5 linked regions of the Homo sapiens genome follow. The protein of the gene in region 1 interacts with the protein of each later gene in a pairwise test. Each region holds a gene or a part of one and is shown in the gene's direction. Other genes may lie near its edges.

What was found.
Region 2: the proteins of EVL (region 1) and SPTA1 interact in a two-hybrid assay, tested with the Homo sapiens proteins (one study listed by IntAct).
Region 3: the proteins of EVL (region 1) and SH3RF1 interact in a two-hybrid assay, tested with the Homo sapiens proteins (one large-scale study listed by BioGRID).
Region 4: the proteins of EVL (region 1) and GDAP1 interact in binary tests that used the Homo sapiens proteins (3 or more experiments, as listed by UniProt).
Region 5: the proteins of EVL (region 1) and FXR1 interact in a two-hybrid assay, tested with the Homo sapiens proteins (one large-scale study listed by BioGRID and IntAct).

Annotation. Positions count from the first base shown.
Region 1 is NC_000014.9:100,127,913-100,131,433, forward strand, and holds part of EVL (ena/VASP-like protein), read left to right. Parts: intron 1-606; coding exon 607-836; intron 837-1,650; coding exon 1,651-1,772; intron 1,773-2,419; exon of another isoform or gene 2,420-2,548; intron 2,549-2,724; exon of another isoform or gene 2,725-3,521. UniProt on the Homo sapiens protein: Ena/VASP proteins are actin-associated proteins involved in a range of processes dependent on cytoskeleton remodeling and cell polarity such as axon guidance and lamellipodial and filopodial dynamics in migrating cells.
Region 2 is NC_000001.11:158,610,183-158,613,715, reverse strand, and holds the end of SPTA1 (spectrin alpha chain, erythrocytic 1), read left to right. Parts: intron 1-754; coding exon 755-899; intron 900-1,201; exon of another isoform or gene 1,202-2,326; coding exon 2,327-2,452; 3' UTR 2,453-3,012; downstream 3,013-3,533.
Region 3 is NC_000004.12:169,096,847-169,099,966, reverse strand, and holds part of SH3RF1 (E3 ubiquitin-protein ligase SH3RF1), read left to right. Parts: intron 1-3,120. UniProt on the Homo sapiens protein: Has E3 ubiquitin-protein ligase activity. In the absence of an external substrate, it can catalyze self-ubiquitination. Stimulates ubiquitination of potassium channel KCNJ1, enhancing it's dynamin-dependent and clathrin-independent endocytosis.
Region 4 is NC_000008.11:74,353,393-74,356,913, forward strand, and holds part of GDAP1 (ganglioside-induced differentiation-associated protein 1), read left to right. Parts: intron 1-3,521. UniProt on the Homo sapiens protein: Regulates the mitochondrial network by promoting mitochondrial fission.
Region 5 is NC_000003.12:180,968,163-180,971,683, forward strand, and holds part of FXR1 (RNA-binding protein FXR1), read left to right. Parts: coding exon 1-92; intron 93-1,995; coding exon 1,996-2,196; intron 2,197-2,912; coding exon of another isoform or gene 2,913-2,993; intron 2,994-3,521. UniProt on the Homo sapiens protein: mRNA-binding protein that acts as a regulator of mRNAs translation and/or stability, and which is required for various processes, such as neurogenesis, muscle development and spermatogenesis.

The DNA of each region.
Region 1 (3,521 bases):
TTGTGGCTGGTTTTCCTCAGCACCATACCCAGCACCTAGCACAGTGCCTGGCACAAAACAGGCTTAGGCAGCACTGGCGGAAGGGGCTGGATGGATGATGCTGGAGCCCAGCACTCGGCATTGCGCCCTGACCCATGCCCCCAGTCGGCCCTGGGACCCACAGGACCTGCCACGGCCCCCAACGACCCAAGTGTCAGTCACAGTTGGATCTTGGTGACCAACTTCTGCCTAGGGGGTGCTAGGTGCTTAGAAGGAGCAGAGAAGAGAAGAGGCACAGACTGTAACCAGACAGCTTCCTCTCCCCCTGGAAAAACATGATTGGAGCAAGAGGAAATTGCCTGGGCTCAAGGAATGTTAAGCAAATAGAGGACACCTGTGGGTCCAGCCAGGCCCCGGAGTACTGAGGACACCAGAATAGGGAATAATTGTGCCAGAGCCAAGTTCATCCCGCGGAGGCTTCCTGGATGAAGCAGGCCTGGAGCTGTTTCTCATCCCTTTGGGGAGCAGCCTGCCCCTGTCCTTCCTCCGGGGAACCTGAGCTGAGAGCAGCAGGCTTGGCCCCCAGCTGGGTGCTGGAGCTGGCTGAGCCTCACTGTTGTGTTTCAGGGCCCATCCTCCCACCAGGACATCCTTCATCTGCAGCCAGCGCCCCCGTCTCATGTAGTGGGCCTCCACCGCCCCCCCCACCCCCAGTCCCACCTCCACCCACTGGGGCTACCCCACCTCCCCCACCCCCACTGCCAGCCGGAGGAGCCCAGGGGTCCAGCCACGACGAGAGCTCCATGTCAGGACTGGCCGCTGCCATAGCTGGGGCCAAGCTGAGAAGAGTCCAACGGGTAAGAGCTCCTGTGTGCGGGGTGGGAATGGGACCGAGGGGACCCTTGTGCCATCTGCAGAGCGCTTGTGTTCCTTCCCGCATCTGCGAGACACAGCAAACTGCTTCCCTGCCCAAAGCTAGCTGGCCCTTGGCCACTTGTTCTCAAACGAGAAATCACATGGGACAGCACTTTGAAATTATGAAGTTAGCCTTTGAGCCTCACGTTGACCTTCACACGTGGGGCAAGAACTATGTCCCCCTTTAGAGATGAGGAAATTGAAGCACAAAGAGCACGAGTAATTTGCTCAAGTCACACCGTTTACAAATTGCAGATTTTGGACTCAAGCCTGGGTCTCCTGAATCTATGTCCATTGCCCTTTCCACTGTAGGAAGCTGTATGCTGGCAACTAGGTCCACCCGGCTGTTTCTTCCCTAACCCTTGCTCATATGTTCTAGAACTGTGCTTGTAAGAATAGCTCTAATACAGACCTTTGGCTTACATTGTGTTTCCTTCCCACAGGATAGTCTCTTCTCCCCTCCCTCCCTCCCTCCATGTGTCATGGCTGGTCTTGGCAAAGACACTAACCATGAGTCTGCAGGCCTGGGGAGTGTCTGCGACTTGTGTGACCTGGGCTGGTCCTTGTCCCTCTCTCGATTCTGGTTTTCTCCCCTGTGGGGTTGGAGAATAATGGACCAGATGGCCCCTGAGGCCCCTTGCAGTGCTGCTGCCATAGGATTCACACGCACACAGTCCCCTGCATCCCCTCACATCGTTGCTGCTCCTGTTCTGCCATCAGCAGCAGAATCTAAAACGCGGCCTCCTTTTTCCTCAGCCAGAAGACGCATCTGGAGGCTCCAGTCCCAGTGGGACCTCAAAGTCCGATGCCAACCGGGCAAGCAGCGGGGGTGGCGGAGGAGGCCTCATGGAGGAAATGAACAAACTGCTGGCCAAGAGGTGGGTCTCTACACCTCCCGAGACTTGGTGTGCCTAGCAGGAAGCTCCTGCCCCCGCCCCCAGCGCTGCACAGAGAATCCTCTCTTGACCCCAGAATCTTTGTTCCCTGGGTTTAGCCAAGCAGGGGAAACTGTTACTTAAGTTTTCCCTTCCCAAGGGGTTAGTCTGAAGCGCAAGCCCACAGGAGTCCTCTAAACTCCAGATCCTTCATTTTAGCTCAGCAAATATTTCCTGAAGCATCTACCATGTACCAGCCCTGTCCTGAGCAGAGATAAATGTGGAGACAATTTCAGAGATAAATGCGGGAAAAAGAACAGTCCTTGCTCTTAAGATCCTAACAGAAATAAGATGTGGCCGCAGTGGTCGAGTTTGCAGAGGACACTCTGGTGAATGTGTGGTGAAGGCACCCCATTCTCCAGGGTTCTTTATGGAGGACTCAGGAGAAGGAGTTATGAAGGGTAGGAGCCCAGAGGGCATTGCCCTGAGCGACGGAGAGAGAGTAGTTCCATCTACATCCCGGCCGGGCTCTTGGGCCTGAGACCTGGCCATGTGTGTCTGCTCGCTGCAGCGGGTGTGGCTGCAGCCTGCCATTGTGGCTCTCCGCTGTTCCCCAAATGAAACCCGAGCAGATGGGGAGATCGTCCAGGTCTTTCTCAAAAGGGATGCAAAGCTTGGATTTTATTTTTAAATATGACTTGGCATCAGGAATGTGCTCACCTTGGACTACCAATATCGTGGCTCACTTAGGCACCAGAGGGCACGGGAGTAGGCCTCACCTGCCAGAACAGAGGAAGCTGCAGCGGGGGCCCTGCTCCCTTGGTAACCCCACCTCCACCCCCTGCCACTTTGTCGCCTTCTCCTGGCCCTCCCAGCTGCCTTCCAATTGGCTGACCCAAGTGAGAACTCTGTGTGCCCAGGGTCTTCACACTGCAGTCCTAGTTCCTCTCATTACCTTCCCGTGGCTCCATGAGGATGATGCGAGATGACAGAGGCCCACAGCTGCAGGCAGCTGGTGTGGCGCTTCATGGCAGGGCCACAGCCTGGGTTTCCTGCCAAGGGGCTCTTTGCTTGCATCACAGATGGCAGGGAGGGGAGGCTCCCCGTGTGTCAGGGAGCAGCAAGGTGGATCCGCAGCACGGGCGTCTCCGGAGCCTCTACTGGGCCTGGGCGTTTGTACATCGCCAAGACAGGAGGCAGGCTTCTGAGCAGTTTCCTGTGAGAGTAAGTCCAGGTGTGTGGGGCTTACAGTGGCCACACAAAGGCGAATGGCTCCGTGGGTGAGAGAGCCGGGAGGGCTCGCAGAACGATGAGGACGTCCCGTGCTGTAAGAGGGACAGTGGGCAGAGTTAAGGTAAGGCTGGGAAGGCTGACGCCCCCTGTGCCTGGAGAGCTAGGTGTGGAGGAAATGGACCAAAAGTCAGGCTGGAAGAGGGAGCCTCCTGGTGCAGGGCATCGGGTTCCACCTCAGAGCACTCAGAGGCGAGGATGGGCCACAGAGAAATAGAAATAGTTTTGGAAAAGAAAATATGAATGCTTTCCCTAAGTCCTAGACCAAGCTGAGGGGAAGCACCTTTCTGTCTGAGAACAGGAAAAGGCCAGTATTGCCAGGAGCCAGTGAGATGCCAGATGCCGGTGGGAGAGTCAAGGCCCTCCCAAGAACAAACATGCTTTGCATAGCTCAGCAGGGATCAATCAGGTGCTCTCTGAAATCCACCTCAGTGATGGCTACTGGGTGGAGCCGACGATGAA
Region 2 (3,533 bases), on another chromosome or scaffold:
AACAAGACTAAGGGTCAGACCGCAGCAGGGATGGGGGTTTGGAGGGAGAAGCACAGAGAGTAAAATGATCCATAAAACATGAAATTAACTCATCTGAAAATAGGAAGAAATAGGCAACCATAAATGAATTAGGCAGCTCTTGGTGCCCTTTCAAGATTAGCTCAGCAGTGAATGGTGCTAACTTTAACTCGAGGACTAGCTTTACAATTTCTCCAATTCATGATTTATGTTCAATCTATGAATTTCAGCTACTTTTGAGGATGAGACTAGAGAGAAGAATCCCTTCATGTATGTGAGATTTTAAGGAGACATAGGTGATTCAGAGACCAACACATGGGGTTGGGGTGGTTATGTGCTTATGGGAGTGTGTTAGAATCATCAAGAGATCAAGTAACTGTTAGGGAATAATTCTTGCTAATACTAAAAACCAAAGAAGACCAGAAATTATTTGAGGACTGGTGCTGATGGGAAATTTCAAAATTCACCGAGAATCAGGCTGAATGACCCATGTTGAAACAGAGTCTGGAGCTTAGTAATATTTAGTAATATTTGGCTTAGTAATGTTTGGCTGTAAGAGGGTGATGAAGGGGAGCCAAAATGGAGAGCATAACCCATCTCATCCCAGAAAGCTTAGTTGGAAGAGGCACTTGGAGAATCTGGCTTTCCTCTGTTTCTGAGACACTGAGTAGGATTAAAAAGGGGACTTCCTTCTCTGCCTTGAGAAGGCTCAGCTCCTGATCCATTTCTCCCACAGGAAGGGCTATGTCTCACTGGAGGACTATACTGCTTTCCTGATTGACAAGGAGTCAGAAAACATCAAGTCCAGTGATGAAATAGAGAATGCCTTCCAAGCCCTGGCAGAGGGCAAGTCATATATTACCAAAGAAGACATGAAGCAGGTCCGATTCTGGTTGCTTCCCCTACTACACTGTCATCCTAATTTGAATTCTGGTCATCTCAGGCCCGGTGGCCTACTTTGAAAAAACCCACCCACTTGTTTTTTTTTTTCAGACCTCCCCTTTCACAAGATGTCATTTGCTTTGGTAACCACTTCATTTTGTCTTGACCCAACTCAAAAACGTACTGTGGTACTCTATTGAATGTGAGAGTCAATTCAAAATCTGCAACTCAGTTTTTAAGGCTATTTCTTTTTTTTTTCCTCATTAATTCAAAGAGCATTTATTGAATGCTTACTATGTTCCAGGCATGAGGAGTGCAAACTTTAGTAAGACACAGTCCCTAAATTCAGGTGTAGTGGGGAAGACAGAACTTTACAAGTTAAAAACACTGTAACAGAAGCAAACACATCTGTCATGGGAACAAAGATGTGGGGAATTTTATTACAACCAGAAGTAATCTCTCTTCTCTCTGATTCCAAGAGCTTTCTTCATTCCTCTCCTTAAAATACTTGCATCAGGGAAAGTATCATCTATGATTAACACAGGGTGAGTGTTGAAGGACGTGCAGGAACTCATCAAGTCATCAAAGGAAAGCCTAAGTGTTTCAGGCAAAGGCAAGTGTGTGTGCAAAGGAACTTGAGAAAACAGATTTTCCTAATACCTAAAGCATAAGGTAAGAAGATAGTAACAGAAAGTGAAAGGGAAAACAATTAAGCAGAAACCAGATTACAAAGGGTCACATACATGATGGTATCGTTTTGCACAAACTCATCCAATTGTCTAAACTCATCAAACTGTACACATTAAAGGTGCAATTCTTTATCAATCATACCTCGACAAAGCTGTTACAAAAAGAAAATGATGTGGTCTTCCAGACACTATCTGGAGCCACCCACCCACACGCTAACTTATTGGAGTCTTTAGGGATCCACTTGGTAATCAAACAGCACAGTGAATAGAGGAACTCTTTGGCATAAGAGGATCATAGGTTCAAGTCCCAGCTCTACCACTTTCTGGCAGTGTAACCACTGGTGAGTTATTCTACCTTCTTGAGTATTTTACCTTACTCATAAAACATGCTAGTCCCCACATCTCAAAGCAGCCAGGAAGATGAAATAGATCAAGTGGTCAACAAATGTTGTTAGGCATATAATTCCTTCTATTTAATAAAACAACTTTAGGGAATGAGATTTACAGAATAATCAAAGTGAGTAAGCTCTCTTTTTCAAGAAAGGGCTGAGATTAAAAGTTAAGTTACTCATTAGAAATTATAAATTTATGAGATAAAAATTGTGTGTAATAGAAATAGGGCTTGCGTCTTCCAGAGACTCTCCATCTCCTGCATTTATGGCGTAATATGGGAAGCCCCAAGGAACCAGCTATTTTGAATCCCTATAACTGTATTTTTCTCTTTTTATACTTTTCAGGCCCTTACCCCAGAGCAAGTGTCATTCTGTGCCACACATATGCAGCAATATATGGACCCACGGGGTCGAAGCCATCTCTCTGGCTATGACTACGTTGGCTTCACCAATTCCTACTTTGGCAACTAATAAGCAGCTCCTCGTGGATCGTAGAAAATCTTAGTGTCGTGGGAAATTTACTGGGGGGCAAAGAGTACAGGCAAATGTGGAAGATAAAGATGGCCTCGTGTGTGTGTGTGTGTGTGTGTGTGTGTGTGTGTGCTTGTGTTTGTGTGCATATTACATTTATTGTAGGATCTTAAAAAATCTCAAGGGTGGGAGATAGAAAGGTTAATAGAGTTGGAGGAGTGGAAGCTATTTTGTATGCAACTAGTCACTGCTGAGGGGTGTCAAAGTTTCTATTTTTATTTGTTCTGTTTTGCACGTCTTTATCATTTTGCTTTATTCCGATTATAGAATAAAGTAATTCTTTTTAAAAATATTTTTTGGGGCAAAGTTAAGTAAAATGTTGAGCTTCTATATTTCTGGGAACTGTACTCATATAAGAGTGGGCAGCTAATTTTACTGTAAAGAAGGGCCATGGTATAGTAGATAAATAAAATCCAAGGCAATTTTCAAACAATTTTTTTAAACTTTGGAATGTGTTTAAATTTAAATTTGAAAATAAAGATATTTGATTTTCTGGGGAACATGAATATTTTAGTTTGTACAATGAAACAACACACAGATCAGCATAACACCTGTTTTCTTCTTGTTTTTTTTCCATACTTCAAAATTATTGTAGATGTTATTACTCTCAGAAAGACAAAATTCCAGCATAGCAGGGCTTTCTCTTGTCCTCCAAGCTCCCGTATTTTCTCTTAAGTTTTAATGTAATAAAAATAATACTTCAATATCCTGTTAAAGTAACAGTTAATAGAATTATTTATAAAATTAAGAATTAATTTTAAAAAAAGAAGAGGTGATGCTATCTTCAAAAATTTTCAGGCCAGGTTTATTCTGAACAGGTTTATATGCCGACATTCTGATTTGATCTATAAAAGGTAATGGTGTCATTTGCTGGTGAGAATTCTTAGATATCTTAATTGCTGTGTATAAAACTGCTAGCGTTCTGCACAAATAGTCCCCACTTACCAATCCATTCATGTTGCCACTTGATTACCATCTTAAGTCTCAGTCCCTTCCTCTGCATAGAAATGAATCTGTGCAG
Region 3 (3,120 bases), on another chromosome or scaffold:
AGGACCTGAGCTGGAAGATTTCTAAGTAGAGTCTATTACTCCTGCACCTGGTAGTCTTCATACGATCAAGACTGTGTCACAGTTTCCATTATGCACATAGTTTCTCATTCCACCCGCCCCCCCAGAGGTTTATAAAACTTAGCAATGAAAATTTGCTCCCACTGGGAACTTGGCAGGAAGAGTATGTTCTTAGCCCAGCAGCAGTTCTAGTTCAAAATTTTTTTTTGACAAAATTGGTTTAGTGCATTTTATAAAATGCATATATTAATCTAATTCACTTCAAGTTTTTCAATAACCATTTTTATTCCATTTCACCTTTAAGGCAGCTCACAGAGAACAAGTAGGGAATATATCTCATGAGAAGTCTACTCTGAATATGTTTTGAGTCACTTGTACATTTTTTCCCAGAATTATAAAGCTTTGCCTTAAATGTTTAACTTGCCCCACATGGCAACTACATCATTGCTTTTTCATGGATTTTTAGCATGTTGACATTAGACTTGAGAAATGTCATCTGGATCCTTCTTTCAGATAAATTCATGATGAAATTATTTGTCTTGCTTTTAAAGGTGTCAGAGAGCTGGGCATAGCGGCTTATGTCTATAATCCCAGCACTTTCTGGGGCTGAGGCTGGAAGATTGCTTGAGCCAAGGAGTTCAAGACCAGCCTGGGCAATATAGTGAGATGCCATCCCTACAAAAAGTAAAAAGATTAACCAGGTTTGGTGGCACACACCTGTAGTCCCAGCCGGAAGGCTGAGGTAGGAAGATCAGTTAAGCCTGGGAGGTCAAGGCTACAGTGAGCTGTGATTGCATCACTGCACACCAGCCTGGGCAACAAAGTAAGACCGTCTCAAAATAAAGATATCAAAGAAGGGATTCCAAAACCCTAACTGTGTTGATCTAAAGTTTGTCAAATCTCATTTTCAGGAAATGAGGCCTGAGTTGTGGCCTGAGTTCGTTTCCTAGTTAGAGATGTCCAGCCACTGACTGGCCCATTCTTCACCTCCTTGAAGTGCCAGGCCTCTGCCTACTCTTGTCTAAGCCATATGATCATAATGGGAGCTAATATTTTCAGGTTGAACTCTTTGTCAGACACCATACGAAGAGCATCATACTTGTTTAACTCATTACAGTCCTATTCTACAGATGAGGAAACAGACTGAGAGCTGAGATAACTGGCCCAAAGTTAAGCTGCTCTAACTGACCTTAAAGACTGTGTCAATCCTTAGGCCAGTGTTTCTCCCGCTGTGTCATGCTTCCTTCCTCATTCCATGCTTGATCAAACCCCAGCCTTGTGGTCTATGAATATTCATGTTTGAATTAGCTGAACCTTTCTCAGATATGATAAGCCAACTTCTGTGCTGTGCTTTTGCTTCAGATCTTGGGTAGTAATTTGGTCCCTGTGCCAAAGGAGCTCAGGTTGTTCAAGCAGCCACTTACCTTTTGCAGAGATGTGTTTTTTTAGTGTAATAGTCTGGGACTCTTGCTGTGGTCTTTCTTAAATGGATTTTGGTTTATATGGAATGGGAATTGGTGAAAGGGGCAGGCTGTAATAGGTTTCAGAAGTTTGGGGACAGTTGTATAGAATTTGTTCTGCCTATCATTTTGAAGCCATAATATTTTTCACTTTCAGTCAGGAGTGGGTCCCACGAGGCTATACACTCATTTTCTGACTTTGAGAACCAAATGAAAGTAGAAACCCAAAATCAACTTTATGACTGACTACTCATTACTTAGCATCAAACAGTGAAAGATGTATTTATTAGATATCTGTTGCCATGTAACCAGTTACGCCCAAAAGTCAGTGGCTTAAAACAATAATAAGCATGTATTATTTCACACTTTCTGTGGGTCACATAATTATGGAACAGCTCATCTGGTTGGTTCTGGCTTAGAGTATTTCTTGAGATTGTAGTCAAGACATCAGCCTGAGCTGATGCTCAACTGGGGCTGGAGGATCCCCTTCTAAGATGGCTTATTCACATCACTTTTTCTGGTTAGTTTAGGCTTTTGGAAAGAGGCCTCAGTGCCTTACCATGTGTTTCCTCTCCATAGAGATGTTGAGTGTCCTCACAACATGGCAGCCAGTTTTCCTGAGTGACCGATCCAAGAGAAAGTAAAGTGGAAGCCATAATGCCTTTTATGATCTAGCCTCAGAAATCACCCACTGTCATTTCTGCAACATTTTATTGGCCACACAGGTCATCCTGTGCATCATAGGAGGAGACTACACAAGAGTGTGAATACCAGGAAGCAAGGATCACTAGGGCCATCTTGGAGGTTGGCTACCATACACCACCATTCTTTTCCCCCCTTTTGTTGAGAAGAGGAGTAATGCAAATAATGCTGGAAAAATAGAGAAAGATAAAAGGATATAGAGTGTAAAACAAGTCACCTCCCTCTCGTTTCCTACAAGCTGTAATTCTGCACAGGAAGGCTAAGGAGCATGGAGGCAGGGGCACAGATAATATTAAACCAACTAAGCTTCTGCCATTTTTAAGCGATAATGACACCTTTCCCACTAACTCCAAATTCTGAGCCAAGGAGAAACAGACCCAAATGTCAGAATAATAGAGATGAGAATGTCAACCTCGTTACTGGTAATGTTGGATTGAACTTGTGGCCATAGCCCTCCCCTCCATGTCTGGACCTTGGGACTACCTTCCCAAGGGATAATCTGGGTATGTGGGGCAGATTACCTTCCTCAGAATTGCTGCCTCGCCCATGTCAAACACCAGTGTAAGGGACGTAGGGACACAGAGACAGACTTCCAGACTCACCTTCCTGACCTCTGTGTGCTTACAACATAGAGGTGGAGCAGAGCCTCCTTAGCCTGTGGGCAGGCGGTTCAGAGAGGACTGAACCCCCCCTGCTCAGCTACTTCTCCCAGTCTCACCAATCAAATAAATTCACTCCTGTTTCCTTGGAGAAGAGGGAGGGATAGAAATGATACCCCTCTCGGGAAATGAAATGAAACTCTCCTTTATGGCCAAGATACAAACACTGGTAGGGAACAAGGATGGCTGTCCTTGTTAAGGTCACTCAGATGAACCAGTCTGGGCCATCAGTAGTGGGTTGACACACATATCCAAATCCAGTCTTTGTTAGTACTAAGTCT
Region 4 (3,521 bases), on another chromosome or scaffold:
TATGGTAGATAGGACGACAGCAAGAGAACAATAGTTTATATAAATCAAGGCTAAGTTATATAAATCGAGGTCAAGAAGAAGTTTATCTCAGAGTACTGAAATTTTAAAAACAGCGTTATCACAATTATAATTAAGATGCTTTATCTTTAAGAACTCATGGAGAATGAAAGTCAGACAAGATAGACAAACATCCTATTGTCAAAGACGGGGAAAAGTGAATTCTACCAACCCTTGCTACTAATTGTATGTTCCATTCATCAGCAGCATTGGTGTCACCTGGGAGCTTGTTAGAACTGCAGAACCTTAGAGCTCTCTGCAGACCTATCAAATTAGAATCTTTGTTTTAACAAGAGCCCCATGTGATTCGTATGTACATTAAAGTTTGAGAATACTGCTATAAATTAGTGTTTAGTTAAGTAAGCACTGGTGTAAATTACTGTCTTTAAATCTGGTGGAAATTTAGAATAGATTGTGAATAGTTATTTAAATATGTTAAAATTTTTGTGTATCTCAGTGAAAGGAACCAATTTAAGTTTTACACTGCTGGAGAATGTCCCTAACACTTCTAAAAAACTGTCTATTATGTGCCAGGCATGGTTCTAGATATAGTATATCTTGATTTAAGTAGAACATTTGCGATTACGTTACATATACCCTTGTGGAATAAAGGAGCAAATATAGCTAGAAGATTGTAACGCACATTTGCAGATGAATAAACTACCATATTAAAGAATATTACTTTATAGATTTCTCATACCAGATTACCTCTTCAACTATAGACTCTCATTTTACTTATAATTGTTTTTATACTTTATTTTAAATGTTTGAATTGTACACCACTGTAAGTACCATGAGGTTGGGAATAGTGTATCTTATGAAAAATTATCCCCAATGCCTTATACAGTGAATGTTTCTTAATAGGTGCTTAATAAATATTTTGAATGATTAAAATGAATAAATTATTGAAACAGATGTTAGCCTGTACAGGGATCCCTTGTAATGTTCTTGTAGGCTTCTTTTTTGACTTGAGCCTAACAAATCAATGATTTGAATAGACATGGAAGAAATACGATTACATTTGTGAATGACAGAAAAGGTAAATAGTCAAAGTGATGACTAGCTTATAAAATATTTCTTATGGAAATACAACAAAATGGAAAAATAAGATAAAGTTTAACAAGGCTAAATGTAAAATGGCTATGAGGAAAATAGGCATGAGACTTTTGTTTTAAAAAACCAGCTGCATTCCAAAAGAATGGGGAACCTGGTTAATAGATAGTAAGTTACCAATGTTAAAACAAATGGCTAGTGTGATTTCAGGTTCTTTGAAAACTGTAAATTTTGTTGAGAACAGGGTGAGTTGTAACCCTCTGCATTCTGAGCTGTTTGGAATAGTTGACATTTTGTCCAATTATGGATGTAACTTTGAGGAATGTTGATGAGATAGAATAAGTGGATGGATTTCATGAGGTGTGCAGTCGCCCATGGTCATGACAGGAGACTGTAAGTGTAGCCATTCCTCTAAAGAACAGAATGTAGTGAACCAGTATGTCCTTCACTGTTATTTGCTGTCCCTTGTTATCGATCCAGTGGGGATTATGCGAAAAACGATGACTTGCTGATCTAGAAACATTTTTCAACTTTTTTGTTTACATTTACATATTTCTATCCTTGTACTTTCGGGATAGTTCATTAAATAATTGGTAGTTTGGTAGCTGAGGTCACCCTTTTCAAGTCATAGCCTGAAATAGTGAATATCTGTTGGATAATGGCTGTATTTGATTTTTTTTTGGAAAGCAGTCATACAGAAGAATGGTATAGACATGAATGATGCTCCTGACTGCCAAACTAAGAGCTGGCCGAGAGCTATCTCTTCATTTATTCTTTAAGTAACCATTTATTGGGTATTAATTTGGTATAGGGTCCTGGGATACTTCAGAGATGTTTTAAAGATCCGAAATCATTAGCAGCTTGCTAGTCTTCAAAGATAATTTCTTTCTATAAGTTTGCTGATAATTCCAAATCTGTCCTTAACATATATACTTGCTATTACTGTACAGTTTTATAGACTCTTTCATGTACATGATACCTCTTTAACTCTGAGCATGTGGTGAGGAATAGTTATTTTACAGCAAGCAATTGATTAAGCTAGATAAGGTATGAGAGTAAGCAAACTAGGTAAACTGAGAAAGAATGGATGTGACAAGGTGAATGTACACACAAATGTGGATTTTTCAATCTATCTATTGTACTCATAACCTCTTTAAATAAAATTTAACTTGGCTACTAATCAAAATTATATGGAATAACTATAAAATACTAGAACATATGTATTACTACCAAATAACTCTGGTAACCTGGAATCAAGAATAATGGATTTTTGTGATTTAATGTAACAGTTCTCTGAACATCACGTTCATGTCTTATGTCTAGATATATAATTTATTCTTAGGAAATAGAATTTAGTTTGGAAATAAACTATTCTAGTATGATATTAAAATCACGTAAATCTTATTAGGATATCTAAATTTATAGATACAATGTTATTTATAAAATACATTTAAATGTTACATTTGAATTTCATCAAATGTAACATTTAAAAAAGAACGTTAATTCTGATGTCACTGTTATATTAAAAATAGTTATTTAAGGAATTACCAATTAATATTTATATTTGTGTTCATCAAGAAAAGGCTCTTGTATATAGTTGAATATAGGCCTTTTAGCACATATACTGAAATTGCAGATTAGCACAAAATGTGGAGAAAATATACCATATGGCATGGAAAAGAATATCAGTCTTTGATTATTGTGTCAGTAAAAGTTGCTTTAAAAAGTAACTTTTCTTCTCTTTGTGATTTGTCCAGTTTTAGCAGACAGGTTGGGGGTATTAAAATTCAGAGGCCCTCTTTCTATATAATATGTATCTAACAATTGGAACAAACTGTCTGATAAAGGAATTTTTGCTTCCATCATTAAAAATGTTTCTGTTAAAAGTCTTAACTGTAATACCAGTTAAAAGTAGTTAAACATTTAATGTATAGTGCATAAAATTTATTGACAATAATGCTATAAATTTGTCTCAAAATCCTGGATGCATACAGTGAACTGATATAATTTGACACCGGGTCTTTTTGTTTTTTTTCTTATCTGTATTTAGATTTGCTCTTTCTAGTTCAAGAGTTATGACAGCACTGAATTGTAATCAATCAGTTTGCTACCATATCTTTTGCCTCAGGTCATAACTTAATTGTTTAATATTATTTAGTGTGTGTGTGTGTGTGTGTGTGTGTGTGTGTTTGTGTGTGTGTATATATATATATATTTTTTTTTTTTTTTTTGAGACGGAGTCTCGCTCTGTCACCAGGCTGGAGTGCAGTGGCGCAATCTCGGCTCCCTGCAACCTCCACCTCCTGGGTTCAAGCGATTCCCCTGCCTCAGCCTCCCGAGTAGCTGGGACTATAGGCGCGCACCACCACGCCCGGCTAATTTTTTGTATTTTAGTAGAGACGGGGTTTCAC
Region 5 (3,521 bases), on another chromosome or scaffold:
CAGCAGGAGACGCCCAGGAGGAAGAGGCAGAAGTGTTTCAGGGGGTCGAGGTCGTGGTGGACCACGTGGTGGCAAATCCTCCATCAGTTCTGGTAGTCTTTTCTATACTCTGTCAGCATCCATTATTTGTAAACAGTTTAATTTTACAAAAGTTAATTCATCTCCCAGGGCCACCCATTTTTGGAAGTTTCTCTTGCTACTCATTGTCTTAGAGAAAGTAGTGGACCATATAGCAGTATCAGGAAAAGCCCTCGTAGAGTGTTTCTCAGTGAAGGTTTACTTAGAATATACTGGTCAGAACTTTAGTTGGCAGCTTTTCTTTATATGATGAGGGTCAGATGTTTCTCTCTTCAGGTTTTGGAGGCTTATTTAATTAGAATTTTTTTTGTTTTCCCTAGAATTTTGGGGTTATGTTTTTTTGTTTGCCAGACAGACCCAGAGATTTCTAATGCACAGAGAGATGTCAGTACTTTTCTATACTTAATATTGAAAACGAAGTGAAGAGCATTCTTAGCTACACTATGTAGTACTTTGGGAACAGGGAAAAATTGTGGAATTAACTAAGTTTTTTAATTGTTGGAGGAACTGTGCTGTAAAGAGGAGTGTTTGGATGACTAAAGATTTGAGGGTGTAGGAAACGTTTTACTTAATTACTTCTGTCTTCTAAAATTTTTTTATGCTTTACATTAAGTTGTAGGAGTTTCCAGAATATCCTTGGTTACCATAACGGGCTAGGGAGTTAATTGCCAGGGATAGATACATAGACTATATTAAGGATATAACTTTAACATATCATTATGGTATACCACGTTAAGAAACCCGCACCTTCCTTAATGTTATACCCATGAAAACTTATGTAGTATTTTAATATTATAGAAAGTGTGTGTAGATACATTAAATATAGATGCCAACTGTGCTTACAAATTACAAAAACTGGAACAAATCAGGGCAAAAATTAGGAACTTGTTCTTTGTTTGTTTAGATTTTCTCCCTTTCCACAGTAATACTCTTTGAGCCTTAAGTTTAGTTTACAGGCTTTCAGGGTAATAGTTTTTATATTTTAGTACACTTTGTACAGTTACCAAGGTGTTTAAAATTACAGTATACTGAATTGCAAAATAAATGTACTTGACCTAGTGTTTTATGATTAATGGATACGCTTAGTGTCTTTTGCAAAGATGCTTAGCTTGCTAGCTGTTACCAAAGGAATCTTAGGAAAAATCGGAATTAGGTGAATTTCTTCTATAAATTTGATTGTTGGAGGTAATAAATGCACATAGGTAAGATGGGTATTTTTCTTATGAATTGTACCTTACAGTTTTTCCTTTTCCACCTTCACATCACCTTCCATAATGTTTCTAAAGATGGAGTACTAGTCAGCATTCGTTTCAACATTTTCCTTTCATAACCAGTTAGAAGTTCAACCTTATTTAATTGGCTGCTTTGTTTCAACTTGTCTTGATTGCTTCAGTTCAGTTACGGATTTCTATTATGTCATGGAATGCAGGTATTGAATATTATTTGGGAAACAGTCCATCAACATCAACACAACAAAGCTGCAGTCATTTTGAACTCAGTTAAGGGGATGAAAGCTCGCTCTTATAATTATTTCTTAACAGCTGAATATTTGTTTCTTTTCATTTTTGTTTTTCTAGTCTCTGGGCAGGATTACCTTGAAATGTGAATGCAAGAATTAGCATTTAATACACTATTTTCTAATGTATATTTTAAAAACAAGGCACAGGAAATGTTAGGAAGCCAAGATGTCTGCTTACTTTCTGCTTTAATTTTTCATCACCACTTAAAGTTTTATCATATTTAATTATCTTTGTTATTTTCCAGGTAAATAATATTGAAAACATTTTATTTGAAGACAGTGCATTTTTATTGGGGGAGACTGAAGTTTATTTGTCATTGATATAGTTCAATATAGATCAAACATTCATAATTGCAGTACTCTTAAACGAATATTTCTTGCCTCTGACATGAATATAGTGCTCAAAGATCCAGACAGCAATCCATACAGCTTACTTGATAATACAGAATCAGATCAGACTGCAGACACTGATGCCAGCGAATCTCATCACAGTACTAACCGTCGTAGGCGGTCTCGTAGACGAAGGACTGATGAAGATGCTGTTCTGATGGATGGAATGACTGAATCTGATACAGCTTCAGTTAATGAAAATGGGCTAGGTATGTAAGCACTTAGGGAAGAGAAATATATATATATATATATATATATATATATATATATATAATTGTAAACTATTGTTAGTATATGAAGCTTTTTTCAAAGAAATATGCAATTCACAAATTGACTTTTTCTTAGTGTTTACTTTGAACAAGGTAGATAGCTTTTTGTCTATCTTAAATGTTTAGTTCTCAGATTTGTTATAGCCAAATTATTTGAAACTTGGAGGGTTAAAGTGCCCTTTGATGCCATTAAATCAGTACAAATATTCAGCTGGCAAGGTACTTAGTGCTTTTATTGTCCCCAAGCTAAAATCAGGCTTTCATCTTGCCTCTTTTAAAATAATTATAAATGACACTGGTAAAGGTACATATATCAAGAGTAGGCATTAATTTTCAAGGGCTAAAATGTCATTAACTTCGGTATAAACCAAACTGTACTAGAGAGGAAGACTGTGTCCCTGAATGATGGCAGTTTAAGTCTGAGTTTTACTGTGAGTTAAAACCCTCTGAATTTCCAGATGATAATTCCATTTTTAATCCATTTGGAATGCTGAAAGCTACAAAAATGTATTTCCTGTCAGTAAACATTTGTTGTTTTATTTTTGTGTTTAATTAAAAGTTTATTTTTCCCCTTTAAATCTTTGAAGGAAAGAAGGTTTTTTTGTTTTTTTGTTTGTTTTTGTCAGAATAGTTCATGGTAAACTTTGCAATTACAGATGATAGTGAAAAAAAACCCCAGCGACGCAATCGTAGCCGCAGGCGTCGCTTCAGGGGTCAGGCAGAAGATAGACAGCCAGGTAACTTGAGTGGACCTGTGGACACCATCAGGTCACAAGCATGAAAAAAATGTCTATGTCTGCTTTCTAAATATATTATACTTACATGTACACATGTGTGCATATACATTCAAAATTTGCATTGCATAAATTGTTTATTCAACTAATAAGACTACTACTATTAAGAAAATGCATTCTTCCTTCACAGTGTGTTAGTAACTTGTCTAATTGAACTAATGTTGTGTCCTAATTGTTTACATGGAAATACTGTTGAGAAGACCATTTTGTTCACTTGGCAGTTTCTTCACACTTGAGATGGGGCCTGCCATCCGAGGGACTGTGTTGTAGATTGTGATCAAGGTTGATTGGCAAAACTGGGCAGCTTTTGCATGGTGCCTGCTTACTATATCTGAATTCAGCACCTCATTTTTGTGGGAGTTGTAATACCCACAATTAAAAAAAAAGTATAAAAGAGAAAAATATTTGAAGGTGTCTTTAACCTAATGCGAGGAATGCATGTTGTTTTTGTTTGTTTATTGTAGTGTGATG